Linked DNA regions of Homo sapiens. The protein of the gene in region 3 interacts with the protein of the main gene of each other region in a biochemical or structural test. Each region holds a gene or a part of one and is shown on either strand. Other genes may lie near its edges.

Region 1 (11,257 bases), on a different chromosome or scaffold from region 3:
ATTTAAGCAATCACTTCCAAACCAGACCATACATCAGAAATATATGAGCCATTGTAAATACTGAATCCTAAACCCCAGTCCATAAATTTAAGTCAAACAGTGGCTCAGGACCTAGTATTAAGAGAGCAAAGCTTAGCTGAGGTTGGGCAGGTATAACTGCTAAGCCATAGGGGAGCAAAGTTACTTTATCAGAGGGCGGCCTAAGTCCCATTAAGGGGCTGAGGATGAGACCAGAGAGGTGGTTTAGGGTGGGACCCAGCAAAGGTAGGTTACCTCAAGCTTTCCTTTTTGTTGCAAAAGTAAAAGTTCTCTACTTTATAATTTTGCTTGGGATTGACCCTTCTAGCATTGGATAATGGTCAGTTGCAAAGAGATGAGTGAAAAGGGGTGAAAGCAACAATGCAATGAAGGCAAAGGGAGTATTTGGAAAATATTTTCACACTAAATATGGTATGATCAGGTGTAGTCATAACAAAGAATGGTGTATATAGATGGCTTTAGAGTGTGTACATGTGTGGGCATGTGTGTGGTGTGTGTGTGTGAATGTGTATTTGTGTTCAGGAAAGCATACAGTAAAGAAAAGATTGGATAGGTAGAATGTACCTTTTTATGACATGCCAAGAAATTGGCACTTTACCCTACCTGAGATGGGGAGCCACTAACATTTGAAACAAAGCAGTAATTGGAAACATATAAGTGTCTTAGAAAGATATCATTAGTGAAAATGAAGAGAATGGGTTGGAGAGATAAGAAAAGAAAATCCAGTTTAAAAGTTACATACAGACATAAGATGAGGGACTGACTGGGTGGCAGGAGTTGCATGGATGGGAGGAGAGCCAAGAGAATTTGGAGAGTGGCTGTGAGGTTGAAAACATGGGGACAAATTCCTGGCTTTCATGTTTGTGTGATAATAATACTGCCATTAAACAATGGTAGCCAATAGAGGAGAAAATTCTGGAGGACACGTATTAAATTCAGTTTTGGAAATGTTGAATCTGGCTTACTTACAGACTGTCTAGCTGGAGAAATTTGGTGGCTGATGGAAATACTGATCTGGAACTCAGAAGGGGAGGCTGGCTGGAGATAGGGACCTGTGCAGGGAATGGGCCCAGAGACAATCTGCAGAATGAAGAGGAGGATTCAGGATGAAACTCTGCAAACACCAACAAGGAAAGAGCCTGTGAAGGAGATGACGGGAGAGCAGCGAGGAAAGGAGGAGAAAAACAGGAAGAGAACAGAAGCCAGAAGTACAGGATGTTTCAGGAGGAAATTAAATATCAAAAGAAATATTTTTTTTACAATAAGAAAAATTAGAATATTTACAGACTGAGGGGAAGTTACATTAGGGAGAGAATTTGAAGACGTGCACTGAAGAGGGATGAGTGCTGGGGCAGGGTTTCAGGGATAGTAAGAAAAGATGTGGTCTAGAACCTGGGTGGAAGGACTATCCTTGACCTGTGAACATACTGGAGAAAATACGTGATGGCCTTCATTTCAAAATTACATTTGCCTTCTGCTAATGGCCTATATTTAGTTTATAGATTATCTAGGCCTCTTATGTTCTCTCTTTTTCATCCTCAGACTGCCCATTTACCATTTTCATGGTATTAAGCACTTAGAAATGAGCACTGAAAGGTGATAAATATAGGACTAAACTATGAGTACATTTTCTTCTTAAGCACCTGTGAAAAGGTTTCTGGAAAGCAAATTTGAATGTAAGTGTTAAAATAAGATTTGAAGGTGATATGTTTTTAAAGTGGTTTGCATGTATGCTAGAGATGATACAAGATGTCTAAACACACATGTGTTTTATACATATTAACAGGTATATATATGTATATACAATTGTATATACATAACACGGCATATTGTATACTCAAGGAACAGGTTTTCTCTTAATTTAAGATCATCATAATGAAGCTCTGTCACATACATAGCTTTTAAATTTGAATTTTTGTATGTGATATGATGCAATTGTACATACTATAATTTTATAACAGTTATGTGTGTGTGTGTGTGTAATGATAGTGAATGAGAAATTTTATACAGATAGGGTAATGCCATACAAAATTTTAGATACTACTGAGCTAGAGATTTCACTTATTCATGTTAACCTGGGATACTCATGGTACCAAAAAACGATGCTGCTTCTCCAGGAACCTCAAGTGATATCACAAATGAGAGAGCTTTCTTATGAGGATCTTAAATTAAGAGAAAACCTGTTCCTTGAGTATACAAATGGCTGGAGTAGGAGGAGGGAATAAATGCACAAAACTTTTGCAGATGTTATTTTCGATCATCTCTGCTTGCTTGCCCTGAGGTGTCCTTATTAACTCCAGGTTAAGTCTCTGTTCCTGACTTCATGCCTTGCAGCGTTACATTCCATTAAAGAATTTCTCACTGCTCTTTACATAACAAGCCTCAACATTTCAAAGATAAGAAAATGATGTTATGTTTCCACAGCTTATTTTAATACTGGGTAATTACAGAGAGATGAAAAGCTTGGGTTTATATTTCTATTAGCTCTAGTTGTATTCCAGAGACTCATTTTCAATGTCAAGTACAACTTTACCTGAAATCCGTAGATTAGGGTTGGTGGCCCCTCAAAACAACTCATCTGGTTCCCGGAGAAAGTATCTGAAGCACCCAATACAGGTGAGACAGAAAACCTAAGATGCCCATTCTCTGCTCGGGCTGGGGACAGTGGTGCTATTTCTCTCTTATCTCTGACCTGGAGAAAATGCCACCAGGTTGACGTGGACTAGGATTCATTCCTCCACAATAAAGAATAGCAAGTGGCTGAATGTCAGTCTCAAAGGAGGACAGCTTAGGAAATATTTATCTTCTTTGTAAAAAAAAAAAAAAAAAACCACACACACACTTTAAAATCAGAGACAACTTTTTTGTTTTGTTTTGATCGCTGTTCAAACTACATTATACAAACGTGTCTCCTTCTCCCTCCAAATAAACTAAAATTCTTAAATTTGACCACACTCTAGCTCTGCCTAATGGTCAGGGAAAAAGTACTCAGGCGATGGTCCCACAAAAGCTCTCCACCCCAGCCTTATTTCCTCCTCTTAGTGTAAAAGAACTCAGGAGGTGGGCGGGCCCCACTGCCACAGCACTACAGTTAGAGCGGCTGCTCCGGCTTATTCTCTCATTGCGGCATCTAGGATCCAGAAGTGAAAAGAACTTTTCCTAGCCTAAGTTTACATTCGTCGAATAGACAATGTTACAACAATAAGAGGAAGGCAGAAGGGAAGGAAGAATTCCCCTCTGCCAAGTATTTAAGTGGCGCTTGGTTTATTCCAAGTCCCCCCGGGAAGAAACACAGCGCTTCGTCCTCAAGTAAGAAATAGAGGCATTATTCACATCCTTGGGTTGAAAAATAAGCATTTTGGGGCTCGCAGGCTTCTGCAAAGCCAGCAAGCACCGCGCTGGGGAGCTGCAGGCCGCCATCAGCAATGGATTCCGGATTTCCCTGGTCTCTGGCAGGCGCGGCACCTGTCTGAGCCAGGGGAAGTTGGGCTGCAGGACTCGCGGTCTCCAGGACACCCGCGGATCCCCACACTGTCCATGCTTGAGTGCGTGCGTGTCTGTCTGTGTGTGTGTGTGTGTGTGTGCGTGTGTGTACCTAAAACAAAGCACTCACTGAGATGACTTTGGAGGGTGCTTAACAGACAGGGCGAGACGCGCCTAATGGGGACGCAAGGCCTGGGATAGCAGGAAGGGAACGAAGAAGTATCTCTTTCCAAGCAGGTCCTGGTGGCTGGGAGCCCGAGTCCACGTGGAATCCGAGGGAACACACGGAGCTCGCTCCCTAGTTCCGCCCAATCCCTCCAGCGAGCCCCAGGAAGCCGCGCGGGTCCCTCCTGCAGCCGATGCAGAGCGAAATCCCCGCTTACCTTGACTGAGCGCTAACACCAGCAGCAGCGGCAGCGGCGCGGCCCCTGTCCGTTCTGGCCCCATCCTGGGTCTGACCGGGGGACCGTAGTTGCGCTGGGTTTGCAGAGGTTTGCAGAGGATACCCTTGGCCGAGGGATACGAGAACCTGCACACTCTAGAAGCTGTCCAGAGGGCTTCTCTCCCCCGCCCGGTGAGAGCAGGGAAAAGTTTCTGGGCAGCTCCTGCAGCGCCGAGGGCCCGCCCCAGCCCGCCCCTCCTGATTCCGCAAACACCGGATCTGCTCCGGCCGCGCCCCGCCCCACCCCGGCCCTGCGGCCCCGCGGGCTGCACCTCGGCTCGTCCACACGCGGGGCACCGCACCTTGGCTCCCGTACAGCGGCCCAGCCCCGGCAGCCTGGAGGCGGTGGGGATGGGGATGGCGCCCTGGCAGGCTTTCCTGCCCTGGACGGGACGGGTGGGCATATCCGACGGGCGAGCGCCCGCCCTGGCACCACTCCGCCCCCGCAGCCTGTCGCCAGCACGCAGGAGATGCCCCAGTCCCCGGGAGAACGTGGCCCCTCCGCAGCCCTTGGCAGCGCCCGGCTCCTGGCAGCGGGTGCCGAGGGCACTAGCCCTAAACCACAGTGCCTAGGGGCTGCGCGGTGCGTCCCTTTCTCTGTTTTTCCTAAGTGGGTGGAGAAAGGGACAAAAATAAGCGCAGAATGACCAGGTTAGAAACTAACTCATCAGGAAAGAAGATCTGCTCACAAGTTATGATTATCCAAGGTGATATTTAAGCAATACCTGCTGCAAGAGCTGTGTGTGTGTGTGTGTGTGTGACAGAGAGACAGAGAGAGAGAAATCATCATTACTTCCTCTCCTCCGAGATAATTAAGAGCTGATTTAATGACTGAGTTTAGGAGATTAACTTCAAGGCCAGAGAAAAGGCTGAGAGCCCATACATGCACTTGTGACTCTCCCTGTCTACATTACACCATGACATAGACTGTGACCATTTTCTTCCATTATTTCAGTCTCACATCTGGAAAGAGAACATTCTATATCCGAGATTTTTAGTTAAAAACCTAAGAAATAGGATATTAATTTTTCTTGTCTGAATCTTATGTTTTATCCAAAAGTTTGGCCACAAATTTCCAGCACATTGCTGAAACCAGAATTCTTCCAGTGACTACTTTTGTGAAGGAACGAACTGTTTTCATAAATCAAGCTTAAGGAGTTATGAGTCTAATAATCATCATTATTGTCATCATTCCAGATCTTCATGGAATGCTACTATGAGCTGAATGGGATGCCTGAGATACTGCCTCTAGGAAGCAAAGTGGCTCAAGGTGGGAAGGACTTAATAATTCATAAAAATCAAGCTCTTCTCTTTACTATAGATAGGGCTGATGTGTCACATTGTTAAAGTATTAAATTGGTATGCATCAGATGTTGCTGCTGATGGCTTATGACTAATACCCTTTGAACCCAAATTATATAGTCCCAGGCTCTTTCCTGTTTTCTTATCAGTCACTTACTGGCTGCACTTACTCACCTTGACAAACACCTGAAGGCATTTTTTTCTGAATTGTCTGGGGTACTCACCTGCTTACTAAAACTCCGGCTATCACCTGAGAGCTCTTAGGTGGCTGCTCACTAACCGGTGACACGATTTTGACGCTCCTTACAGACTTTTTGAAGGAAGTCAGCCAGGTTTCAGGGAGATGAATATCTGTCTGTTTCCTTCTGACTCACTGAAATGTGAGTAAGTGTTTGGAACAGACCTGTGTTTGGGAGGCAGGACACTTCCTTTAATGTGAGACAGGAATTTGTGTTTTATCTCTGGGGGTGGGGGGAAATAACATGCATCCTTCTTGGTTTTTGTTCTCAGAACTGGACAAATTAACATTACACTGTCATGAAGTGCAGAATAAGTCAGGAGCTACGATTTTCCAGAGCCAGGCAAAACTTTTAGAAACAAAGAACAAACTCCTGCCTCACATTAATTTTAAGAGGATAAAGTGTTCCTGAGACAAAGTAGTTTGAGAACCCCTTCCAGGGTGCTCTCCTGCCTAGTTGCAGTTGTGAGGGACACCACATTCAGAGCAGGAAATATGGAAGGTTAAGCTGGGGCTTCTCAAACTCTTTGGTCTCAAGAGCCCTTTACTCAGTAAGTCCTTTAACAAAAATCCTATTATGTGTGAACATAAATAATGTACATTTTATGAAAAATAACTATATTTCTCCAAATGAAAGAATCCGGGAGAAGAGTGGCATTGCTTTACATTTTTGCTAATATTTTAAATATCTGGCTTAAAAACAGACATTTGGATTCTCAGATCTGCTTCTGCATCCAATCTGTTACGGCATGTAGTTTTGGTGAAATTATATTGATTAATCTGGTGTTACACAGATATGGACTTAGAAAAACAGGAGATAATTCTGGATAATCCCCTGATACTACACCAAAACTCAACAAGTGGTAGTTTCTTAAAGTTGCAATGTGGAATCTGAAACCATATCAATGGTTTTTCCTATTCCGTGGCATTAAAATTCATTGATCTGCTGGCCTCTCCGTGTCCCTCTCCCTTTCTCTTCCTGTGAGTGCCCAGTGATGAAGAATACAATGACCACCAGTCCCCATCCTTGTTCTTGCACCATGAGGGCAAATGTCAACACAGTGAAAAACGCAGTAACGTCTCAGTATTGTTATGAAAATAGTTTTGACTTCACTGGCCACTTGAAAGGATCTTGAGAGACCCAGAGACCCTACTCCAAAAAGCACTCAGGGGTGAAGTGAGGCCTTCCCCTCTTTTTCTTTTCCTTAGCTCAAGACAGAGTTTTGTTGGGGAACACGGCTCAGATAAGTTTCCCCAGTGTTTCCTTCTGATCTGTTGTATCGTCATGCCCTGCCCTCCTTTGTTTATCCCGTTTTCATATAGACAATCACCCAAACCAGAAACCTCTGCTTTCTTCCCCAGGTGCACCACCAGCCCCCTGCTAACATCCCATTCCAATTCTGTCTTTACACCCTACTAGGGTTTTCTGTGCCATCTCCTATTTTCTGTTCCACTGCTAATCTCTCTTTGGTTCAAACCCTTTTGATCTTTCACCATGGTGACAAACTCCCATATAATCTCTCTGTGCTTCCTTCTCTCCTGTTCCAGTTCATCTTTTATACCTGTTGTCACAGTTATCCAAAAATGCAGGACTGATCTGCTGAAAATCATTAGATGTCTTCAGGACATTCAAAGTACCCTAGGGTTTAAGGTCACGATTTGGCTCCAACTCACCTCTGTGGGCTCCGTGGCTATCTTTCCCTCTTGCACACTATGTTTAGGCCAAATTCACGAGTTCACTGGCCTGCCTTTCCCATTCTTCATTGTCAATTCCTTATTTTTCTACTTAGAATAGCTTTCTTTTTTTCTTCCATTGTTTCAAATTCTACTTCAAGGCTCCAGTCAAATTCTATATTATTAGCCCAGCCTTTCCCATTTTCTTCACTGAGAACTAATCATTCTTCTTTCTTGGCTCTGGTTTCCTCTAGCTTTTTTTTTTTGTTTTTGTTTTTTCCCCCAAATAAACTTTCTTTTGTATGTATTACAGAGTAATATATTATTGAGTTATATGTGTATATTCTACCTTCTCATTTAAATGCTGGGTCTCTGAAATCTTATACATTTTTGTTATAAGAGTCTAGTCCTATACCTAGTAAATAAATTTCTAATAAATATTAATAGTTATTATAATACATTGAAATGAGTTTCCTAACAATTCCACATTCTTCTCCCTAGACCTGAAAAGGGTGGTAAATATGAACTTCTAGGTAAGTCCTAGTAATTTTGAAGTGAAGTAACCAGTGGCTTCTCAAATGTTACTCAGTGAATCCATGGGATGAGTGAGTAAAGCTTAGAATCCATTGAGCTTGACTCACACACAAGTCTCTAAGCACTGGCTGGGGTGCATAATGGCCAAAATAAAAGAGACACTCCTAACTTAAACACAAACAAAACAAATAAAATAATTCTAGATTTCCTAGCTTCCTGGACCCATCAATACACTGATGAATCATATTCATATTTCGATTCTAGCACAACTACGGTTGACTGGCCTTACTTGTTTTCATGCTTGTGGCAGACATGCAAAGCTATTTGCCAGCTCTGCCAATAGGGCTTTCTCAGAGTCTTCCATGATCCCCTTCTAGAAGTCACTGAGTCACATAATCCTGCCTCCTTGTCGCTAAGCCAAACACCTGACCAAGCTCGATCAATCTCCTAGGGATTTACATTCATGGTATACAGATTCTAGAATCTTTGCTGATCACATGAAATGGAAATTTGTGTTCACTTTGTACAACCATTTTCTTTCTTTTTTCCCCCCCGCCTTTTTTTTTTTTTTTTTTTTTTTGAGATGGGGCTTTGTGCTGCCTAGGCTAGAGTGCAGTGGTATTCATAGTTCGTTTCAGCCTCAAACTCCTGGGCTCAAGTGATCCTGCTACCTCAGCCTCCCGAGTAGCTGGGCAGGCATGCACCACCACACCTGTCTAATTTTTTAATTTTTCTTTTTATAGAGATGGGGTCTCACTGTGTTGCCAAGGCTGGTCTGGAACTCTTGGCCTCAAGCAATCCTCCTGCCCCACCTTCCCAAAGTGTTGGAATTATGCCCAGCCCATTCATTTTCTTCAATGAGTGTAGAAAAAGCCAATCTGCACCATTTATCAAAAACAGAGACAGATATGAGAGACCAAGAAACTGAGGTGTGCATGCATGAGACAGACAGACAGAGAAAGAGAGAGACACGGAGAGAGATTGTTCTAGGTCTTTTAATTTTGTTTGCCATTGTGTGAGATCTGACTGTTCTTCCTGGGTTTACATCCATGAAATATCTGTGTATCATTCTATTACTTTCAGTGGCAAAACCCACAATTATTTTTGGACCAACCTAATAATAGTTTCTCTTTTTCTCTGAAGCTAATTTGAGCAGGTTTCTAGTCCTTGTACTAGACTACGTTTAAGACATATCTGTCTCTCTTCTGGGAAATCTTAAGGACTTCCAAGTTAACATGTCTCATTAACTTCTTTCACTCACAGTTCCTAAAATAGAGCCTGACACAGAGTTGATGCTCAATGAATGTTTGTTCCCCAAATGAATAAACATACTTCTTCAACTAGTCACTAATGTCTTGATTTGTTAAGATGAACCCGAAAAAAAAAGAATTTTATCTCTTAGGACATGGAAAAGTTCAATGAAGGGGAAACATTGTTCATCCATACTTTAGACTTTTTTAAAGAAATGTGTCATATGAAGGATTAAGGCTGCTTATGGCTATCTGCTACTCTACTCTGTCTGGAAAACTTGCATGTTCCAGTTAGAGGGCAGTTATTTTTCAGGGGTGAAAAATAAATCATATTTAAACTAGCCCAAGTCAAAGAATAGTTAATTGCAAGGATATGAAGAACTTTCTGAGAACCCAAAGACAGGAATTATAGCCCTTGGGTACTTAAAGTGGAGACTGGGAAGATAAGAACCTAATTAACTCTCTGCAACTTTTAGGGAATTCATGACTTGTTGGCTTTGCTTCTCTGTGTGTACCTGCTCTATTGTCTTCTCTGTAGGCTGACTTCCTCCTTAATTACTCATCATTTCCATTGCCCTGTAACTTCAACTTGCAAGTGCCTTTAGTTTTCCATGGCTTGTCTCCAGTTAGGATTCTATAGACTTAATTTTAACTCAGTAAAGAAAGGGTCTTCTTCAGTTTGATACACTGTATGACCACACCAGATGATTTTTCTTTTTTTAAAATTTCCTGCCAAGAACACGAACTTTTGTTCTTTAGGTAGTTATTATTCTTTTCTGAAGCCAAGACCTCTCCTTTTCAGCCATTTTGCAATTTAACTTTTAGTGCATCTTGAGTGACATGAACTCCTATTTTGTTTGAAGTAATTTTGTTGGTACCATTTAGATTGGAGCCTGTCCTTTTAGATGGAAACACATTTCAAATGTGTAACATCAAAAAGTCAAACAGAGCCAATTTTACCATTAGCATCTATTTGACTGGCAGACTAGTGAACTTTGCTTGCCCATCAAAAGAATGGAATCAGTGAAGCTGGGAGAGCCCAGAAAGATTTTGAACTTCAGTTTTTCCAGGAATCTCAGTTTTAATCACAATCTAAATATTTTCTGCTTTCACATTTCCTACTGTGCAGTATGAGAAAGCAACAGCTAGTATTCCTGGCTCACAAATGGTGGCCTATTTCATGGTCTCCTAATATTTGTCTCTAAGCTCTCTGCATAATTCTTCTCCAGAATTTCTATCCCTTTTTCTCACAGATTCTTATTATTTCTAACATTATCCTTCACTTGGATTAAGTTGAGAATCTGAGTTCTCTGCATAATTCTTCTCCAGACTTTCTATCTCTTTTTTCTCACAGATTCTTATTATATCTAACATTATCCGTCATTTGGATTAAGTTGAGAATCTTGCAATCTCTTCGGTTTTGTAACATTCACTCACTTACCACATATTTATTTAGCATCTACAATGTGCAAAGTATTGAGCCAAGCACAGTGTTGAGAATTAGTCATGACTACCCTCAGTGGCTATGCTCAATGGGCTTGAAATCTCATTACCAGATACTGTCTTCAGAGTCTTGTTCTAGCTGAAATAATATGCTTGGATATGAGCAGAACAAATGGAAGTTCAGTCTGGTTTATGCTACTCAGTGGAATGAGAGAACGTTTAGGCACCTTTTTTTTTTTTTTGAGACGGAGTCTTACTCTGTTGCCCAAACTGGAGTGCAGTGGCATGATCTCAGCTCTCTGCAACCTCCGCCTCCTGGGTTCAAGTGATTCTCCTGCCTCAGCCTCCTCCCAAGTAGCCAAGTAGCTGGGACTACAGGCACACACCACCACACCTGACTAATTTTTGTATTTTTATTAGACATGGGGTTTTGCCATGTTGGCCAGTCTGTTCTCGAACTCCTGACTTCAGATGATCTGCCTGCCTCGGCTTCCCGAAGTGCTGGGAATAGGTGTGAGCCACCATGCCCAGCCTAGGCACATTTTCTTTAGATGCATCAGGAACCTTTATAAAAGTACAGTTATATGGAAGATGGCTTGCACCATCAAAAAACTCTGTATGTGTAGATAAATGAAGACATTCTAAGGCTTGAACTTGAGAGGAACTAACATTTTAAAAGCCCCTAAAACCATAAACTTTCACATGGTATATCATGGTAATGCAGTTTATTTTCTTCTTGTAGTTGTAACCTACACATAGAGGCCCATTTTCTTCTTAGAGTTGTGGCCCATAGACCTAGAGGTAGTGACTTTTACTCATTTGTAAACTGAAAATTATCAGCCTCACCAGCCT
Region 2 (10,531 bases), on a different chromosome or scaffold from region 3:
ACAGACACACACTCACGCACACTAATATAATAATTATGCCTTAGTCCAGTGTTTCTCAAACTTTAATCTGTTTAAGAATCATATGGGGCCAGGCACAGTGGCTCAAGCCTGTAATCCCAGCACCTTGGGAGGCCGAGGCAGGCGGATCATCTGTGGTCGGGAGTTCAAGACCAGCCTGGCCAACATGGCGAAACCCTATCTCTACTAAAAATACAAAAATTAGTTGGGCATGGTAGCACATGCCTGTAATCCCAGCTACTCAGAAGGCTGAGGCACGAGAATTGCTTGAACCCAGAAGGTGGAGGCTGCAGTGAGCCAAGATCGTACCATTGCACTCCAGCCTGGGTAGCAAGAGTGAAACTCCTTGTCAAAAAAACAAACAAACAGAAAAGAATCATATGGGTTGCTTATATATAATGCAGGCTTATAGCCCCACCCTCAGAGATTCTGATTTTGAAAATCTGGGGTATAGTTCAAGCATCCCAGTGATTTGGAAGCAGAAATTCCATGAGCCATAATTGGAGAAACATGGCATTAGACAGAAGCACCATTAAGGCATCACCCTTGTCTGTCATCTTCCCCACTATTACCCAAGCTATAGCATAGAGCTTGGAACATAGTAAGCCCTTAGTACATACATCTGAATAAATGAATGAATGTATATGGTTAAGCTCCACAATCAATGATGAAAGCAAGATGTGACATAAAAATTCAGAAATATAATCAGCTTCTCTCTTTAAAAATCAGGTTCCCTTGGGTGAAGTCAGAAGATAATGTAAACGACACTGTGCAGGGTGCTTCATTCAGAAATATTCTTCTCTGTGGATTGAGGTCCTGGATCTTGGTAAATGTAACTGAACTCTTCTGCTGCAGGGTAAGTTCATTTTCCTCCCATTCACTGGTAGCATCTGGACCCCAAGGGCCCTCCTGAATTTGTCTGAATAGAGCCATTGTTCCCTCCAGAAAATACATATAACTTCATGTTGCCCACTCTGGCAGGCTAGAATTCCTCTGGTGGACAGGCAGAATAGCTCCTCTTTTAGGACTCTCAACACAGAAATGTAAATTAATTATAGTTCTAACTGAAAAACATCGAAATTGCAGAAGAATAGCTTGAGCATATAAGCAATTGACTGTTATTTATTTCTTTACAAAATGGAGTCACTGGCATAGATCTTCACAGAAGCTGTAATTATTGTTCTAAAAGAGCCGTATGGATTTTCTTTCTAAAGTTGTGGACCAACTTCAGACATGTCACAGCTGCACTAATTTTCACAAATAGCTACAAATAAATTAATTTTTAAGAGTAATATACATAAGTGAATTTAAAGGTAAAATAAAATATTTAGATGGCTGTATAATAAATTGTAAAAAATATTTCAAGCATGTTATTAGCTTTGGAAGGAAAAAGTTAGGTAAGAAGATCAAATGGGATGGACAAAACAAGAAGAAGGAAAGAAAGCACATCATGGGCAAAAGTGGAGAAAGCGGGAACACAAGCCATTTCATTTAAGGTATTAGTCCAGGCAGTGAGTCATTGCCAAGCCTAGCACGGTTTCAGCCAAGAGGCTGCCTGAGGAAGGATGAGGACAGTCATCCTCATGAAATAGAAAAGGATTGAAATCTACTATTCAGGGGCATTAGATGGTACTGGCTCTGAAGCTTCTCTAGAAGTAGAGCCCTCAGAAAGAAAAAAAACAACAGCAAACTGGGCTACAATTAGAGAGCTGTGTGTGTTCTAATCTGCCATCAGCAAGCAGAAAGACCTTAAACAAATCAGTTAGCCTCTCGTGTCTCCTTCATAAATTGAGGTTGGGGGCCAAATGACCTTTAAGATTCTTTCCAGCTTTAATCTTATGACTCTATGCTATCTTATTGGCCAAGGAGAGAAGGGATAGGGGAAGCGAGGAAAGGAGGAAGGAAGAGTGGTCTCAGAAGGGAAAAAAGGAGGTCCATGAGGAACAGGTGCCAGAAGGAAGAGCAAGTCACATCCTGGAGTTGGTCTGTTAAGATGCAGGCTGCCCTGTACCCTGTAGCAAGACGGGATAAAAAGGTCCCCTACCATCCACTAGTAATTTCACTTGAGAAGGTCAATTGCAAATAAGTCACTTCCAGGGAAAATTACATTTTGTGATACGTAAAAGCCCATTTCATTTTTAATGATTTTACACTGATTTCAACAAGTTCTCTATTGTCCAGCAGGATATTTATAACCTTACCCTTCCACTCACTCTCTACAGAGACCTATTCAGCCTTGGAATGCAGCAATACATTTCACTTTGAAGTTTGAGTTCAACTTTGAAATTTTCAACCACCATCCTTTTAGAAAATTATATATACATAGATATCAAAATATTAAGAGAGACATAAATATACACAGACACATGAAGACACATGTATGTATATATATGTGCACATATTATGTTCCAAATTTAATGTAGGTGTGGCAAACATTAACGCAGTCAGTCTGCTTTTTCAGTGCCTCAGAAACTTCTCCCAAAGTAAAGTCCTCAGAAAAAAAAAAAAAAAAGGAAGATCACTGTATTGATTGCAGTACTATAATCTTAAAGTCTCCTATGCTCTCTACAGCCTCCAAACCACACAACAATCTTTTAGGCTCTGATTCTAGGGCTAATTCCTGACCTGAGGCATTGACTTCATTTTGACATTTTATTTGCCTGTTATCCATTATGTCTGCCCTGTATTTTAATATATATGCCCATATGAGTTTAATAAACATTAAATCAGTCAAATGTATTTAATTAAATGTAATTAAATTAAACTCAGTATCTAAAGTGGAAAAGCTGTGTGAGAAGTTCCACTTCATTTAGTGGCAATAAAGGAGATGTGTTTAGAAATAGATATTAATTGGGGGGATAAACAAACAACTATTTGATTTTATGCAGAGATAGCCAGGGGCATTTTCTTTTAACTTAGGGAAAAGAAATTATTAACAGAAAGGACAACAGGCTTTAAGTAGTATCCTCTGGTCAGTTACTAACTTATTTGTATAATATGAGAGGAGAGATTATAATGTGATGGGTTGTTTGGGATGTCAGATTAGTTTTTACAAACTCTGACACCCGGCTCTGACATTACCAAAAGTGGCTATATCCATTTTAAGTAAAAATTAAACTATGAGTTTATAGAACTCTATAGGAGTTATTTTTCAAGTGCATTAAAAATGGCAGCTTTCATAATATTTTCTGTTTAGAAAATAACACAGCCTAGGTTGGGCACAGTGGCTCACGCCTGTAATACCAATGCTTTGAGAGGCAGAGACAGGTGTATCAACCAGAGGCTAGGAGTTTGAGACCAGCCTGGCCAACATGATGAAACCCCATCTCTATTACAAATTTAAAAAATTAGCCAGGTGTGATGGCGCATGCCTGTAATTCCAGCTTCTGGAGAGGCTGAGAAATATGAATTGCTTGAGCCTGGGAGGTGAAGGTTGCAGTGAGCTGAGATTGCACCACTGCACTCCAGCCTGGGCAACAGAGTGAGACTCTGTCTAAAAAAGAAAAAGAAAAAAGAAAAAAGAAAAAAATAGAAAATAACACAGCTTAAAGTAATGTCCTTTTTATCAGAAATAAGAACAGGAAATGGATATAAAATTCATTCTCAACTTTAGTTTTATTGATTAATTTGCTTTCAGAATATTTGGTTTTATTAAAAATTTGTGCATTTTTATCTTTAGAACAACAGAAATCAAAACACAAAGTCACATACCTGTGTCTGTTTAGGACCAATATCCATTCTTTCAAGAAGGTCATTTAAAAAAGCTGTAACACTGTCCCATGGGTAAATACTGTTGGAACCATCCAGCACTATGACTATGTCCAGTTGAGTGCTGCATTCTGCAATAAAAGGAGTCAATTGTCAAATTTGGAATCTATTTTTTTCAGAGGCATATGAAGTGCTTTCATGGCTGAAAGAAGTTCATTTTAAAAGATGAACTGATGTTCTCCAAAGTAGACACATTGTTTTAGCAATAAAAAATAGTTTTCGAAAAAGTAAAGATGATAAAAATATTCATTGCTTTCAATAACAATTGGTGTGGGATAAAATTCATACCTACTGAATTTTAATTAGTATTGTATGAGAGTTATCTTTGCAAATTTTCTCAATATGAATTTTATATAAGTTTTTATAAAACAGTTTTTGAGCATATCTCAAATGAAGTTACTTCTTTCTTCAAAGAGACTCATTCTTTAAATATAAGCAGCATGACAGCTTTATCTATGATGTTTAAAAATGACTTTGTAAAGTTATTTACACTAATATCAATTCCAAAAATAGCAGTCAGATTTTGTTATATACTGGCAAAGCAAACATTTACCTAAATTGGTAATGCTGGTAGCTAAGAAAATACTTTAAGCTTTTTGGTATGTTCCTTTGTATACATACGTCTCATTCATTGCATAGGCTTTTCAAACATGCAAGAACATTGCATAAAATCTGTACCTTGTACAGGGGCAATGGAATTCACGACTTGAAATGTGGGGCTGACGTCAGAACAGATTCCAGTTGTGTAATGCAAATGTCCACATCTATAGGCATATAAGGGCCCACAAGCCTTTAAAAAATTGTTTTAAAATTAGAAATCATTAGACTGAAAATTATATAACAGATCTTACAAAGACTTAAAATGATAGCATATCTGTTGTCAATAAATATCATTCTCTCCATTCTTACCAGAAATCCTCCATTTGGGTTGGTGACTAAAGTTGATCCAAATGTCATGTTCTCCTTTACTTCTGTGACATTGGGAATTGATGTATTAACTAAAAATAGAACAAAATTTTATGAGGGAGGAAAAGTTTCACAAAGTGAAATTTTAAGCATCTCTCATTAAGACATTCTATTTGTTTTGCTCATATCATAGCACATTCTTCTTTTGGTTCAACTAATTAGTCTTCCAAGTCTTCTTAAGGAATATAATGAACAAGCTAAGGCTGAAGAGTTGGCTCATGTCCCAGAAACTATTTCAGATAGTTTTGCTGAACTGTGAAAGAATGCAGAACTAGCAGGGCAATGAGAATGTGGGATTGCTTTTTGCACGTTCTTGCTAATTAAAGCAAAGTTTTTAATCTCATAATACTGTAGATATAATGTAATCTTATAACTTTGTTATAAATGACCAGTGATGAAACACGATTTTTGGCAAGAAAAGGGGAAATGGGTAGAAGATCAGAAAAGAAAACTCAAACACCAGTTTTTTGACCATGACTTCCAAAATCATGAGGACATCCTTTGGGTGACAAAGGAAACTAGAGGAATATTAGAGCAGTGTCCAGAAAGTTTTGATAAAGGAAACACAGTAAAGAGACTGCATTTGACATTCTGAAGGGAATGTTGGGTCCTGAAGCATGAAGCATGCCAGCCTAACAATATTGGCAAGAAGTTTCACTTTCTCACACTAAAAAAGAAAAAAAGACTGGACAGGAAAAACAAGAACTTCTAAATCTGCTTAGTAGAGTGGAATATTAGAAAGAGGCAAAATTCAGGTTGAGAAAGATTTGTCTCACTGTTTGTTCCAGAGGTTGTTTTCATGTTAAGACTGTATGTGGATTTAAAGTGGGGAATGGAAGCAGAGATTCTGGAATGGTCAGTTAGACTTCCTGATCTGCGCAATGGCCTTTGTCCAAGAGTTTAGTCTGGTTTGCTTTGAAAGCACCTAGAGCTGGGCGATTGTATGCATTGATCTTGTATAATCTGGATTAGAGTTTTATATACAAAGCTTGACCCAGAAAAAGCATTCCTGGGACAATTAGGGACTACAGTGGAAACTTCCCTACTGTACTTGATGTGGCTAAAATCTCTAGCCTAATTTTAAAACTATTCCAATTTCCAGTAAGGGAGGAGTAACTCCTAACAAAACAGCTCCTCTGCAAATCACAACTATAAATTCTAGGAAGAATTAAAAAAAATACATGAAACAATCACCTGAAGGCACTAGAAAGGTGGCAGAAAATGGAGGGGAATCCATACTTGGAAGAAGATACTGGCACTAAATGAGTTTTGTGCTTTTGTGTTTTGTTTTGTTTTTGTCCCCCACCCCTAACCCACCCCCAACCTAGGGAAGGCCCTGGTCAGTGGCTAAAACTCAAATAGAACTCCTAGTCTTACTGTACTGAATAAAAAGAGAACAGAGATTGAGGGCAATGACAGCAGCTGCAAAATGAGGAGGAGAGTAGTATATCTTAGAAAAAGAGCCACAAAACAACAGTTCTATAATATGCATATATATTTTATCCAAATAACTAGATGACTTGAATAGTAAATGCGCAGAGTATATTTCAAATAGCCCAGCTGAAATAAAACCTGAATAGAGATTTTAACTACTTGTCATTGCAAGAAAGTCAATGCTTGGAAATTGAGTTGAGCCAAGTAAATTTCCTGCTAATAAAAAAAGTTAAGACTATTCACAGGCATATAACAGAATCTAGAATCTCCACACCTGTAATTCAAAAATATAATCCAGGTTATGATCCAAAATTACAAGACAAGACAGGAAAATGTGATGCAACCTCAAGGAAAGGTAATAAATGGAAAGTGATGTTGAGATATTCCAGATGTTGGAATTATCAGGCAAGGATATTAAAGCAGCTATTATAAGTATGCTTATGCATGTAAAGAAAAAAAGTTCATAAAAACAAACAAATAGAAAATTCAAAAAAAGGAGAACTGAAAAATACAATATGTGAAATAAACTTGTGGGGCTATAAATAATTTCCATAGTATGTAATATTGTATAGAACATTGACAGGGTTCTAATTTCTAGATAATTTTAGTAGGAATTTTCCGGTCACATTCCTACTATTTATGTCAAATACATCTATTTCAATATAAATTTATCTTGTGTGATTCTATTTTTAAAATTAAATTTATCTATTACAATTCCTCTGATTCTATTTCCTCTTGAAAACCAGGCACTAAGTTAAATTTTGTGGAGGGAATGTGGTGGGCAGGTTTATTTGGAGAAGTTCTTTCACATTACCACTGAATTAGAAAGAATTCTGAAAAATGCAGAGAGTTAAAAGTTATAAAATTAGTACGGTATTCTAATTTATGTATGCTCCTTGATGACTTTCTAAAGCAAATTAAGGACAGAGGGAATCAAAATGGCATTCTATGTCAATCTGGAAGATAAATGATTATAGAAAAATGATTATAGATTATAAATGATTATATGAAAAATGATTATAGATTACTTCTTGAACTCAGCGCCTTAGACCGCTCGACCATTCTGACACACAGATTACTTCTAATATTTTCTTGAGTTGATTAAAATCTGTTTTTTTTCTTTTCTTTTTTTTTTTTTTTTTGAGATGGAGTTTTGCTCTTGTTCCTCAGGCTGGAGTGCAATGGCGTGATGTTGCCTTAACACAACCTCTGCCTCCCAGGTTCAAGCAGGTCTCCTGCCTCAGCCTCCTAAGTAGCTGGGATTACAGGCATGTACCACTATGCCCAGCTTAATTTTGTATTTTTAGTAGAGGCAGGGTTTCTCCATGTTGGTCAGGCTGGTCTCGAACTCCCGACCTCAGGTGATCCGCCTGCCTCGGCCTCCCAAAGTGCTGGGATTACAGGTGTGAGACACTGCGCCCAGCCCAAAATCTGTTTTCAGTGAGAATACTGGGCATAATTTAAGACCTGATTTTTTTTTTTTTTTTTTTTGAGACAGGGTCTCACTCTGTCACCCAGGCTGGAGTGCAGTGGCGCAATTACCATTCACTGCAGTCTCAAACTCCTGAGCTCAAGCGATCCTCACACTTCATCCTCTTGAGTAGCTGGGACTACAGTAGTGCACCACCCCATCCAGCTATTTTTGTATATTTTGTAGAGATGAGGTTTCGTCAGGTTGCCCAGGCTGGTCTCAAACTCCTGGGCTCAAACGATATGCCTGTCTTGACCTCTTAAAGTGTGGGGATTACAGGCGTGACTCACCGCACCTGGCCTAAAACCAGATTTTTTTAATTTTACATACCTGGTAGATCCAACTTTACACAAGGTAATGATTCACCTCTCCCAACTGGACACTTATAGACATCTCCAGTTCTGTTTTTGGGTTGGCCAACTAACGGAGAACCAATAAGCACCCTGGAAGTTAAATAAATCAGTAAACATTTTTGAACATTGAGAAACAGTTTATATGAGTTGTTTTATGACTGATTTTAAGATAATTGACAATAACACTCATAATCAGATAATAATCATGCTATTAGTAATTTAATGTTATGTAAACTAAGCAGAGAGCCTACCTCTTGCATATTGATGTGGATTAAAAAGTATATATACACACACACACATACATATACAATATACATATATAGCATATACATGTGTGTATATACATATATATGTGTGTATATACATGTATATGTGTGTGTATATGTAGGATAGATATTTCAGAGATTTTGCTTTATTATTTTGTTTATATTACTTTATCATATTTTTTATTGGGGTACTGAAATAATCAATAATTATTGGCTAAGTCTGCTACTGTATTAACTTATAAAACACATGTGGAAGTATAAGTGACTTTTTCCTATGATGAACTGCTAATTTTATAGAGAAGTCAGGAAATATAAACATTGGAACATCATAAGATTTAATATTAGCATGTGCTAGTTTATAAGTGCTTAGAAAATAAGGATAGTTTATGAGATCCAGGTTAAAATCACTTACTTTCCTTTTAGACAGAATTATAAAACCATTCTAACAGTAATTAATGGAAAAAACATATAATCACAACTGATTTTAGTTCCAACAAGTCATTTAAGTCTCCCATGATATCTTCAGGAATCGGATGAACTAAAGTAAATAGTAAGATACTTGGGTGGATCCACAGTTGCTGATTTATTGCTGGCTGAGTAGCCATATCCAAAAACTCTGGCTGCTAGCAATCAAAGGACTTAATTACATAGTATGAGATTTTGTACTTGGGATTGTGTTAGATTACAACTTTATTTTTTTATTTTATTTTTTTATTTTTATTTTTTGAGACGGAGTCTCGCTCTGTTGCCAGACTGGAGTGCAGTGGCATGACCTTGGCCCACTGCAACCTCCGCCTCCTGGGTCCAAGCGATTCTCCTGCCTCAGCCTCCCAAGTAGCTGGGACTACAGGTGCACGCCACCACGCCCGACTAATTTTTGTATTTTTAGTAAAGACAGGGTTTCACCATGTTGGCCAGGATAGTCTCGGTCTCTTGACCACGTGATCCGCCCACCTTGGCCTCCCAAAGTGCTGGGATTACAGGCATGAGCCACCACGCCCAGCCAGATGACAACTTTATTAATGACTTTAGTCAAGATATAAAAAGTATAAATATAGTTATCAATCAGCACCATAAGACAGAGCAAGAAAAAAATACTTATCAAGTATATCAATATACATACTTAGGAATTCAGATGAATCTCAACATTCTGGAACAATAAACATAAATAAACTAAAGTTTACTTAGAACCTACATAAATAACTTCGCTCAGCTGCATACTATTATTTATATCAGTGCAGGATGTGGGAGCCCTCACTTAATGGGAGTTCATGTGAAAAAGGCATGGGGGATTTAGATGATAGCACATAAACATGAGCAACAGCGTATTTTAGTGCCAAAAATGCTAATGTGACTTTAGTCTGCAGTGCTGGAAATAGATGCCCTGGTCAAGCAGTGATAGTCCCCCTGTGTTCTGTGCTGGTCAGGCCATGTCTGAAATATCTAAATTAAGAGGGACATATGCACAATGGAATGTATTTAGGAGACTATGACTCAGATAGTTAGGAGTCTGGTAAATTTGTCAGACAAAAGATGCTGGGAAAGTTGGGGATGTTCGGCATGGAGAAAGAATGTCTGCAGGAGAACTGAGAAGTTGCATTGAAGTACAAATTGATTAGGCACACATTTTGAAAATTTAAATATTTGAAAGTCTGTCATATTGAAAAGAAATGGGATTTATTTTGTGTAGGCCCTATAGGCATGCTAGTATTAATGAAAATAAATTTTATAAAACAATTGTAAATATTAAGCTATTGAGACTCTAAAACATGGTTTTAATATAATGCCTTTGGAAAGCAATTTCTGATTTGTATAAAGAACTACAAAAATGCTCAAACCCTTTAATACATAATTTTTACTTCTGGGAATCTATCCTAAATAAAATGACCTAAAGTAAGAGGGAAAAGCTTAATGCACAAAGATAATGCTCATAGTGTTATATATAATTATGAAAGAGTAAAAGAAATATGGTAAATAAAAACTAATTATTTCAGGATCATTCTATAGCATATTGTACATTCATTGTATGGTAGGATGAAAAATTATTTATGATCGAACTCAAAGTGAAAATTTATCTAATTTAGTGAAAATCTGTGCCCTAATTTAACATGAAAGACACCAAATTACTATGTTCATTATACTACCACTGATAATGGCAGCTAGGCTTTATTGAATTTATACCATGTGCTAGGCCCTGTTCTAAGTGCTTTCTGTGTATTAAATAATTTAATCTTCTCCATGAAATATAGCATGAA
Region 3 (11,060 bases):
GGGAGTTAGAAGTTGAAGCGGCATCTGAGTAGGTGCTTCTAGTTCCTGGCTGCCTTTTTTGCTGCTGGAGGTCACAATGACCTCACTCAGTGGAGGGCCCTGACTTCTGGGCATCATTCCTAAAGCACTTCAGGTCACAGCCATGGCCACATAACTCTGCCATCTATGGAAGGGGAAAGAAACCTAGAGCTACTGCATACCTTGCACAGGGTCACCCAGCTGGAGCTGGAGTAGATACTGAGGTCAGAAGAACATCCTGGCTCTGTGCTGCCCATTCCGAGGCAGACAATAGATGAATCCCAAGAAGGGAGGGAAGAAAACAAGAGGACAGAACTGACATGTATTTAGCATCAGTGGCATTCCAGCACTACACAGGCTTTATGAATCTTGTTTCATTTAAATTCCCCATGATAGTCTGCCCCTCAGGGTGCAATACCAGGGAGCCAAGACTACCAGCCTATTCTCTTTTAGAGTCTCAGCACTCTCCATTCCCCACCCCTGTTTCCCTGACTTACCTTGACCTTCCTGTCATCTGCTGTTGTCTCATCGAACTCCACCCCCAACTTAAAGCTGATCTCTGTGTTCTTGAAGGTGCTGTGTGTTTTTAGGGTGAGAATGTCCCCATTCTTTTCGATGATTGTGGTAGGCTTGGTCATGCTGGCCACCTGCCTGGTAGCAAAACCCACACCTGAGGGTAGGGGGAAGGTTATGAGTATATGAGCTGGGGTAGAGAAGCAGTGTACAAGAAACTCAATGAATAACTCTCAGGCCTGGGTATGGGGAAGTGGAGGACTGTATCTTTCAAAGCCTTTGCATGGGAATTTTAAAATTCAGTCTTGCGCTTAGTTCTGTTTGGTGAACACAGATAACTGATCCCATTAGATGAGAGATACTTAAGGAACAGCAGTGCCATAGCAAGTCAGTGGCAGAGCTGGGATTAGAATAAGCTACTATTGGGCCAAGTGTGGTGGCTCACGCCTGTAATCACACTTTGGGAGGCCAAGGCAGGCGGATCACATGAGGCCAGGAGTTTAAGACCAGCCTGGCCAATATGGTGAAACCCGTCTCTACTAAAAATACAAAAAATTAGCCAGATGTGGTGGTATGTGCCTGTAATCCCAGCTACTCAGGAGGCTGAGGCTGAGAATTGCTTGAACCTAGGAGGTGGAGGTTGCAGTGAGTCGAGATTGTGCCACTGCACTCCAGCCTAGCCAACAGAGTGAGATTCCACCTCAAAAAAAAAAAAAAAGCTACTATTAAGTACTATGAGCTTTTTGTGTAGTAAGAACTGTACATGTTATCTCATTTAGTTCTTCCTGTTCTTCTGAAGACTGTTTCCACGTTACAGATACAAAAACAGAGGTAAAGCCCAGGGTCACAAATCTGAGATTGAAGCCCAGAATTGTCTGAGTCCAGAGCTTGCTTAAGTGCTCAGCTATACTACCTCCCAAGGCTGGAGCATAAGGCTGCCTTCCAGGGCACCTGAAAAGCTCTCAAAGCCTTAGGAATAAGGCTGAGGAAAGAAGAGAAACATAGACTTTCCCTTCCAAAGCCTTAGGCATAGGAGTTTTCCAACTTTGGAAGTTTTTACCCTGAAACTAAGAAGTGTTAGTGCTCTTGTCCCTTATACATGGCAACCCATCATTTTCAAAGCCTGTTATCTATGATCTAGGAGTTAGGTACAAAGGAAGTATTTGTCCTATTGTGCAGATTCAGGAGGAGCCTAAAGCGGTAGCAACAATGAGTTAGACTCAAACCCGTCTCCTGACTCCCAGTCTAAGGCTTTACAGAGACTCTCTTCCTGACCCAAGCATGGCTTCCTTGGGTACTGGGCAAAGTCCTAAGTGTCCTGCAACCAAGTAAAGAACAAAGAACTAATCATGACTGCCCCCTCTCCCCCCAGCAGCTTAACATTGAACTGTCTTCCAAGGCAAAGGTGAGGCAGGAGGCAGCCCAGTGTAGTGAGGTGGTGTGTGTAAAGTCTCCAAATGTACCTGGCTACATAGTGCTTGCTGGAAGCTAGGTACTCTGCACATGCCCTACATGGGTTGTTTTACTTAATGCTTGTAACAGCCTCGAAGCGTAGATTATCCCCAGTTTACAATGAAGAGTGCGAAGTGTCTTGTCGAAATTCAAAGAGAATAAACTACTGACATAGATTTGAACCTCGGCTCCAAAACTGTTGACTATTTTCACTGGGCGATTCTGTCCAGCACATACTCAATCCAGGCCAGCAGTTGTGCCTGTGGTCACTGGTACTAGACGGGACCTCTTTGCCCCTTGAGAGCCCTAGGTCTACAGCAGGAGGGGCAGGGGCTGCCTCTGCTGTTATGCTGTCAGCCCACCCTTGCTTGGCCAGTGAGGAACTTGGCATTGCCCCTTGGTATCAGGATGAGTCAGGCCAATCACACTCCCTTGCACAGAGCAGGACCTTGTCACGGCACTGGGAGCTCTGTTCACTTAGGATCTACCCAGAGGTATGGAGTGTTTGAAAAGGAAACCACTGCGGGATGAGTGAGGGTCTGAACCAAGAGAAACTAAGAATATTGAGCTGACAGAATTTAGGAGACTCAGGGAGATCTGGGTTCTACTTAGAAATGAAGCCAGCACTACTTACTGAGAGCTGAGGAGGGTATTTTCCCAGGCTTTCCATTCCTACGATGAGAATGCTGGCTGCCTTAACATAAGCTGCTGAAAGATAACAGGACTTCAGGGAGACCAGCCCGCTGACCCAACTCGGGGCAGAATAAGGGAACAAGAATGGTAAAGTTGTTGCAGCTCAATTCAAGACTCAGCTCTGGCCCAGCTTTGGAAGGAGGAACTAAATCTGGGCATTCCAACTTCCCAATAGCTGCTGGGCTGTGTTCGTGGGGGCTGGGGGCTGCTCCTCTAAGAATGACTGCCTGCCTAGAATTACTGGGCATAGCGCCCAAGATAGGGTAGAGGCCGTTGAGAGCTTTGACCTCTCCATCTAAGCCCAAAGCAGTAGAAGAAGGGCTGAGGTCAATCATTAGCTAAGCAGTTTCTACTTTTCTTCCCACTCGCAGGGCCTGTAGGGTAGTGGGAAGAGCTCTGGGTTACAGATCTAGAAACCTTAGATTTTCATATTGGCTCTGCTGTGGAATTGTTATAATACATTTCTACTCTCCTGGTTTCAGTTTCCCTGTTGAACTAGATGGTATGGGAATCTCCAAGTTCCTCACCTGTGAGATTCTTTGAATCCTGATTCTTCTCCATCCCAACACCACAGCAGTTCTCCACATCCTCCTAAACCAGTGATCCTCCCTCCCAGGTCTTGACCTTGCCTTGGGACCCTCTACTGCACATCAGAAGTCCAATGGCTTTCTCTGCCTACCCCTCGCACAGATAGGTGAGCCTTGGGTTGCAGGAAAGGCCCAGCTGATCATGGGCCTCTTGCCCCACCCTACCACGAGGCTCACAGACAGTGATGAAGGCCTGGATACATAGACTGCAGGACAAGGTCAGACTGGCTGGTGAGAAAGGGCATTCTCCAGCAAGAATTCTCTTCCCTAACCAAGCAGAGATGGGGATTGCTGCTTACTGCAGGTTCCTGTCTTACGTCCTTCTCATATCTGATTCACTGATCCACAGTTTTTTCCCCACTAATCTTTTTCCTCCTAGGTATTTCCTACTTGTTTACATCATTGTACACTCCCTGGCTGCCCCATTCCCTTTCTGGGTTCAGTCTCCTCCAATTTCTAAACTACCCATGCCCCTGTTCTTTTTCTCCCCTGGCTACACTCCCTTTCCTGTGATCAGTGTTCTTTATCCAAACCCTCCTCCTACCTCCAAATCACATATCCCTCTTCCTGGAAAGAGCCTCCCACACAGCTGCCTCCTTCCACCACCTCCCTACCGTGGTCTCTAACCAGATTTGGACCACCAAAGCCCCCTCTGAACAGGCCCCACCTGCTCTAGGCCAGGCTGCCATCTCCGCGCTCCCCTATTCCCCAGTCTTAACCAGGAGGGATGCGGCAGGAGTGCTGCGTGGGGCTAGGCACGCCACCAGCCAGTCCCCAAGCCAACATCCTGAGCCCCGCGGCTTGCTCACCGAGTGACTTCATGTAGTCATCGAAATTCTTGCTGTCCACTAGCTTCCAGGTGCCCAGGAAAGCGTCCACCATAGTGATGCTGGGCTAGGCTGAGAGAAGCTACAAGAGAGCAGGCGTGCAAGGGCTCCGACGGCGGCTCCCTGCCCGGGCTGCCGCTTTAAATAGCCCTCGCATCACATGAGGAGACGTGGCCCACGCCCCCGGCTCCCGAAATAGGAAGCCCCAGGCTAGGGCTCACCCAGGAGGGGCTGGTGCGCCCATCCCCCAACCCACCGAGGTGGGTGGGGACCAGCCAGTGGCGCCCTGCTAGCCTGCGTCAGCGCCAGTGCCTGGCCCCCGAGTCCCTACCCCAGGCTGGTAGGACCTTCTCCCTTTCCTGGCCTCTAGGCACTCTGGAATCTGAGAAGGAAGCAGCCAACACCAGCCCGAGAGCTAGGGCGCATGCCATGGTGGATATCTTCCCGTCCCCCAGTCCCTCTTTGAGCTTAGCGTCAGAGCAGAGATGAGACTAGAAAAGCAAAACGCCCTTGGGCTGGTGCCCACGCCGGGGAAAGCTCTGGTTGACTTCTGGCACGGGCATCTGTCCTCGTTTTACAAGTGAGGAGTCCGAGGCTCACAGGGGAACTGACAAGGTCTCAAGAAATAGGAGGGGGTGAATGGAGCTCAGATTGCAAGCTTAGTCTAGCGGGCTTCAGAGCTCGCGCTCTCCCTTCACTCTCACTGCCTGGTGGCGGAGACAGTCACCAGCGGCTCGGTCTGCGGCTGAGCTGACCTTGTCCTCTGCCTGTTTTGAGCAAAAGCCTGACCCTTCGCGCCCCGCCCGCCTCACACGTGCTTGCCCCTCCCTGCGGAATGTCTCCTGCTGGCCCTCCTCCGTCCCCACCCCACCCCACCATCTAGCTCCCCACCCGCCCCTGCAAGTGCTCTGGGCTTTTCCGGTTTCTTCGCACAGCTCCGAGCTTTAGCTCAGGTCGTTCCCAGCTCCCCTCCTGCAGAAATTCTGCCAATTCGGTCAGCTCTTCAAGGCCCATGGCTGCCTTCCCCACCTGCCGCCCTTTCTTTGGCCTGTGCACACTAGCAAGCCGCCTGCACTTTTGGGTAATTTGCTGCCTCCTTTCGAGAGCCTGTTGTGCGGTGGTTTGTCACTGTATAGTTTACTAAGCACTTTCAGTAAAAATAAGACCTGCCTTGTCTTGCTATTTATTGCATGCTGAGGGCTTTGGGTGTATTGTTTCATTGAACTTTTTATTTTATTATTATTTTTTAGAGACAAAGTCTCTCGCTGTGTCTCCCAGGCTGGAGTACTGTGACGCCATCATAGCTCACTGCAGCCTCAAACTCCGGGGCTCAGGGGATCCTCCTACCTTAGCCTCCCCAGCAGCTGGGACTATAGGCACACGCCACCACACCTGGCCTCATTGGACTTTTAAAGCAAAATCCATGAAGTAGGTGTTACTGTATTATTTTCTCTTTTTAAAAAGGTGAACAAGTTGAAGCTCTGAGGAGCTCACTCATTAATTCAGCAGTTAATAAAGCACCTACTTTGTGCCAGGCCCTGCTTTGGAGAGAGACAACAGGGAACAAGACACACATTCACCTCTGGGCAGCCAGACATAAAACTAGCGTGGTGCCTCTAAAGGGAGTCCTGTCCTGTCCTGACCTGAGGGCCCAATGTAGACTTCTCAAAGGAAGTGAGGTATAAATGAATTTCTGAGGGATGGCAGGAGGCCCTGCACACCAAGGAGTAGTGCCGAACTGAATTTCAGCCAGCAGCAGCCTGTCCAGGGTGGGCCTGCAGGAGCCAACACAGGAGCCCAGAGGCCTGCCACGTGCGTAGAGTATGGCAGGCCCTCCTTCCTGGGACTCTGTTTCTCCATGTGCAAACCCTGCCTCCCTTCCCTGGACTGTTCTGAGAACAAGGCCAGGGAGGAAGAGCCCTCTCCCCACCCTAAGATCTTGATTCCTTTGGACGGTCCAGTTGCCAGAAGACTCAGAGGCTCATTTCTGCCAAAGCTATAGGGACAGGCTTCAGGGCTGGGCATGGAGCCTTGGTGATCTCACTGTTGGAACAGGTGCCAGGAGAGGAGGAGGGGGAAAAGATGATTTCTGACTCAAGGTCGCAGCCCTCACACATAGGGCCTCCTCTCAAGGACTGTGTGGCCAGGAACTAGAACTGACTCCTTATGTGGCCCTTGTAATGCAATGATGGAGAGCTGGGGCTGGGCTAATGGCTGCTGGCAGATCTGCGTTCTGATCTGAATTTTGTTGGGTACTAGCTGTGTGGCCTTGGGCAATTCACTTAAGCCATTCTGAGTCTCCATTTTTTTTTTTTTTTTTTTGAGAAGGAGTCTCGTTGCCCAGGCTGAAGTGCAGTGGTGTGATCTTGGCTCACTGCAACCTCCACCTCCTGGGTTCAAGCAATTCTCCTGCCTCAGCCTCCCAAGTAGCTGGGATTACAGGCAACTGCCACCACATCTGGATAATTTTTGTATTTTTAGTAGAGACGGGGTTTCGCCATGTTGGCCAGGCTGGTCTTAAACTCCTGACCTCAGGTGATCTGCCCACCTGGACCTCCTAAAGTTCTGGGATTACAGGCATGAGCCACCACGCCAGCTTCAGTTTCATCTTTAAAATGAAGGGATTTTTTTTTGGAGATGGAGTCTTGCACTCTGTCACCCAGGCTGGAGTGCAATGGTGTTATCTCAGCTCACTGCAACCTCTGCCTCCCAGGTTCAAGTGATTCTCCTGCCTCAGCCTCCCAGGTTCAAGTGATTCTCCTGCCTCAGCCTCCCAAGTAGCTGGGACTATAGGCGCGGGCCACCGCGCCAGGCTAATTTTTATATTTTTAGTAGAGACGGGGTTTCACCATATTGGCCAGGCTGGCCTTGAACTCCTGACCTCAAGTGATCCGCCTGCCTTGGCCTCCCAAAGTGCTGGGATTACAGGCATGAGCCACCACGCCTGGCCTATTTATTTATTTGGAGAGAGTCTCACTCTGTCACTCAGGCTGGAGTGCAGTGGCATGATCTCAGCTCATGGCATTCTTGACCTCCCAGACTCAAGGGATCCTCCCACCTCAGCCTCCTGAGTAGTTAGGACTACAGGCGCATGGCACCACGCCTGGCTAATTTTTTGTGCATTTTTTTGGTAGAGACAGGGTTTTGCCGTGTTGCCCAGGCTGGTGTTGGACTCCTGGCCTCAAGCAATCTGCTTGCCTCGGCTTCCAAAGTGCTGAGACTACAGGTGTGAGCCACGACACCTGGCCCGAGATAATACATTTAAATGCTAAGCATGGTTGACTTACGAAAGTTCACTGCTGCTGCTCCTCCTGCTGCTATTGTTATTGTCTCCAGGGATAGTGCAGACACCTAAGACCTAGTCTGAGCTCTGCCACTACCTACTGAGTTAGTTACCTGAGGCAGATTGCTTTGCTTCTTTAATCCTCAGTTTTATTATTTCTGGGACAGGATTAGAAAGGGCTTCAACTGAAAAAGGGGCTATAGAGGTTTTTCAGAATGGGTTGGGGTGGGGTCACTGCCAGAAAATCCATTTGCTCCCTCTCTTGGGCCTGTCCAAATTGAGCAGCACGGGGCTTTGAGGAGCTCTACTCGACAAACCTCAGACCAACTACCCTCACTGCCCTTCCCTCACCTCGCCATGGTGCTCAGACCTGGGTCACCGAGGTTAACCCATAAGCCACACCCCATCTCCTTTCCTCCTGGTTTACACCCTTCTCCCTTCTAAGTATGTACAGTTCTCTCCTCATCCCTCTGATCTACCTGCATCCTCTTCCTCTGTTATGCTGACTACATTTGGGGAAGAATGTGAGCCCTGTCCCTTTTTGTACTCCTCTGTCTTGCCCTTGGCAGATCCAGATGTGGATATAACATCTGGCAGGCAGCAAGACCAGCGCCTGCCAAGAACAGCATCTCCCCAGCCCTCATCCTATGGTGAGGTCACTGTTCTATGTTTCCACGGCAACCACAGGCTGGGAAGATGGAGAAGAGGAGAGATGAGTAACCAGAAGCCAGCCAATGAGATGAGCTGCAGCACCGGATGATCCATGGGGCCATGGGGAGCGGGGACAAGGGAGGCCTGCTCAGCATGTTCAGCTGTTTCCTGGACCCTCCCTGCCATCTGGATGCCTCCACTAGAGAATGTGCTACTAGCACCAGGAAAGAGCTAGAGGCTGAAGAAGCTGAGTAGAAGCTCTGCTGACCCAAGAACATGGCCCTCCTTTTTTGCCTCTTCAGGGTCTAAGTCTATGGTTGCTGACTACCCCCGCCCCATCCCACCCCTAATATCTGCAACTGGGAACTTTTCCCATTTGCTGGGAATGATGGTGGGGCTCTTTCTGCCTCTGCCTGCCATAGAACCAGCAAGTCTTAGACATCCCTTCTTTTTATGCCCTTGGTCCATGGGGTCTTTGTTACCAGAAAGGGGTCCCAATCCAGACCCCAAGAGAGAGTTCTTGCATCTCACACAAGAAAGAATTCGGGGCAAATCCGCAGAATAAAGTAAAAGCAAGTTTATTAGAGAAGTAAAGAAATGTCTGTTTAGTAAATTATTAACCTGTTCCCTTAACTCTTAACTGTAAACATTTTGTGACTAAGAATGTTTCACCTTGTGGGAATGCATCCCAGCCAGGTCTCAGCTTCATTTTATCCAGCCTCTATTCAAGATGGAGTCACTCTGGTTAGAATGCCTCTGACATCTTCAGATGCAGTGTCTTTGGAAAGAGCCCTGATTCTAAACTCCAGGCCTGCATTTACTAGCTAGAGACCTAGAACAAGCTCCCTTTCCCCCTTCTGAGTCTTGTTTTCTCCCAAATAGAGGAAGGCCATCAACTTCTCAGGGTTGTTAGGACAATTAAAAGAGATAACAAATGGAAAGCCTACCGTGCACTAATATTGAAGGAATAGTAACTCCTTTCTCCTTTCCTCCTTCCAGTTCTTTTCCCCGGGATATTTGAGTAAGCCAAGGCCCTTTGAGACCCTGAATAAGTAGGAAAGGATTCAAGTATATGGCCAACTCCTCTTCATTGAGGTCACAGAGTGGCCTTCAGATCTTGGACATAAGTTTCCTCATATTTCCCTTTCTCTCTCTTTAAATATTCATTCATTCTACCAATCTTAATTGAGCACCTCCTATGGCCAGGCACTGTGCTAGGCTCAGTGAGGATCCAGGGTGAACAGGAGAGCTCCCTGCTCTCACTTAGCTCACAGTGCAGGGGGATTGCAGCTACAGTGGGTGGAGTGTTCTTTCTGCCACTAGGAAATCTGCTTCCTTGTTCCCCAAGAGTTCCAGATACTGTGGGCTGGAGAGAACAAATGATGGCAGAAGGTAGAGGTTTACTCAACACCAATTTGCTTCTAAGAAACTGCTGCCTGTGGCAGAATGCTCCCTGAAATGAGAACAATGACCCTCCCTGCCCTGGGGGACAGGGGGTACCTCAGTGGGGAGGGGCAATCTGCCTTCTCAGAAGCCATCCTCTCCCTGTTGCTGACAGAAGAAAGCCCAGACTGTATAGCCTGGTCTCATCTATTTCCTTGGTCTAATTTGTTGCTGAAATCCTTTTTAAGAAGAGTTTCTGGCGGAGAATAAGGTATAGTATATTGACAAGATCGGGTGCATTCAGGGTGGTATGGTTGTAGACAGGTACAGTATATTGAATGAATGAACAAATGAGTGAGTGAAGGAGAGAATCTATCTACCTCCCTAGTTTTAGGGGCTCTGGAGTGAGACTTGGGTTCCAGTCTTGCCATATGTATACAACAGCTGTGTGACCTCGGGCAAGTCATGATCTCACTGGGTCTCAGTTTCTAAATCTGCAAAGAGCATTATCACTATTCTCACCTAGCCAGCCTCCCAAGGACTCTGAGAAGCTAGGGGAGGACAAATTGAGGAATGCAGCACAAAGGATGTTTCTCCAACTCCTGGCCTCAAGCGATCCTCCTGCCTCAGCCTCTCCAGTAGCTGGGACAGGCGTACCTGGTTTATGTTTTTTCTCTTCCAGCCTCCTTCCTTGGCTGCCTGTGGTCCTTAGCACAAGACCCACTTTCTTTGACATGACCCCATAGCCACAGCCTAAGCATCACAGCCCACACACTCTAGCCCCTACCTGCCTCTCCCAGCTTTCCACACACACTGCAGCCATTCTGACCTTTTTGTACCTTGAGGGGACACCATGTTTCTCTCTTTATGTTTGCCAGCAGTGCTCTTCCTCACCCCTACAGTCTTTTCTTTTTTAAAAAATCTTTATATATATATATTTTTTTAGACAGTCCAGCTCTGTCACCTAGGCTGGAGTGCAATGGTGCAATCTCGGCTCATTGCAACCTGTGCCTCCCAGGTTCAAGCGATGTTCATGCCTCAGTCCCCTGGGTAGCTGGGATTACAGGCATCTGCCACCACACCTGGCTAATTTTTGTATTTTTAGTAGAGATGGGGTTTCACCATGTTAACCAGGCTGGTCTCCAACTCCTGACCTCAAGTGATCCACCTGCCTCAGCCTCCCAAAGTGCTAGGATTACAGGCATGAACCACCACACCCGGCCAACTCCTACTCATTTTTCAGCTTTCAGCATAACTATCCTGCTTCTGGGTAACACCATCTTCCCTGGCCTTCCCTATCCTGCTTTGATGTTTGTTTCAGAGTCTGTCTTTGCCATTACACCGGAGGCCCTTAGAGGGCTGGGACCCAGTCTGTGTTGCTTCTTGCTGTGCACAGGACCTGGCATGTATTTGTGGAGTGGACAGTCTCTCCAGAGAAAAAGAAAGCCACTTGTTCTTGCAGTGTTCTCTCTGTTTTGAAATTCTGACACCATCACCATCTCCTCCACTACTCTCAACTTTCCTCCTGCCAAAGTATCCTGTTTTGTGTCCTCTTTCTCACTCCATCCCTGAGGGCCAGTAGCCTGGGCCACTTCCTGTGTGTGGTGGGGCCCCAAGTACTCCCAGGTGAGAATTGCCCTTTGGAAAGCATGA

Evidence for each region.
Region 1: the proteins of FABP3 (region 3) and ITGA2 interact in a biophysical measurement, tested with the Homo sapiens proteins (one study listed by IntAct).
Region 2: the proteins of FABP3 (region 3) and ITGA1 interact in a biophysical measurement, tested with the Homo sapiens proteins (one study listed by IntAct).

The regions. Positions count from the first base shown.
Region 1 is NC_000005.10:52,982,181-52,993,437, reverse strand, and holds the start of ITGA2 (integrin alpha-2 precursor), read right to left. Parts: upstream 4,087-11,257; 5' UTR 3,970-4,086; coding exon 3,906-3,969; intron 3,349-3,905; exon of another isoform or gene 3,152-3,348; intron 1-3,151. UniProt on the Homo sapiens protein: Integrin alpha-2/beta-1 is a receptor for laminin, collagen, collagen C-propeptides, fibronectin and E-cadherin. It recognizes the proline-hydroxylated sequence G-F-P-G-E-R in collagen.
Region 2 is NC_000005.10:52,859,016-52,869,546, reverse strand, and holds part of ITGA1 (integrin alpha-1 precursor), read right to left. Parts: intron 8,101-10,531; coding exon 7,988-8,100; intron 4,785-7,987; coding exon 4,696-4,784; intron 4,577-4,695; coding exon 4,465-4,576; intron 3,858-4,464; coding exon 3,730-3,857; intron 1-3,729. UniProt on the Homo sapiens protein: Integrin alpha-1/beta-1 is a receptor for laminin and collagen. It recognizes the proline-hydroxylated sequence G-F-P-G-E-R in collagen. Involved in anchorage-dependent, negative regulation of EGF-stimulated cell growth.
Region 3 is NC_000001.11:31,368,870-31,379,929, forward strand, and holds the start of FABP3 (fatty acid-binding protein, heart), read right to left. Parts: upstream 4,208-11,060; 5' UTR 4,146-4,207; coding exon 4,073-4,145; intron 722-4,072; coding exon of another isoform or gene 689-721; coding exon 516-688; intron 1-515. UniProt on the Homo sapiens protein: FABPs are thought to play a role in the intracellular transport of long-chain fatty acids and their acyl-CoA esters.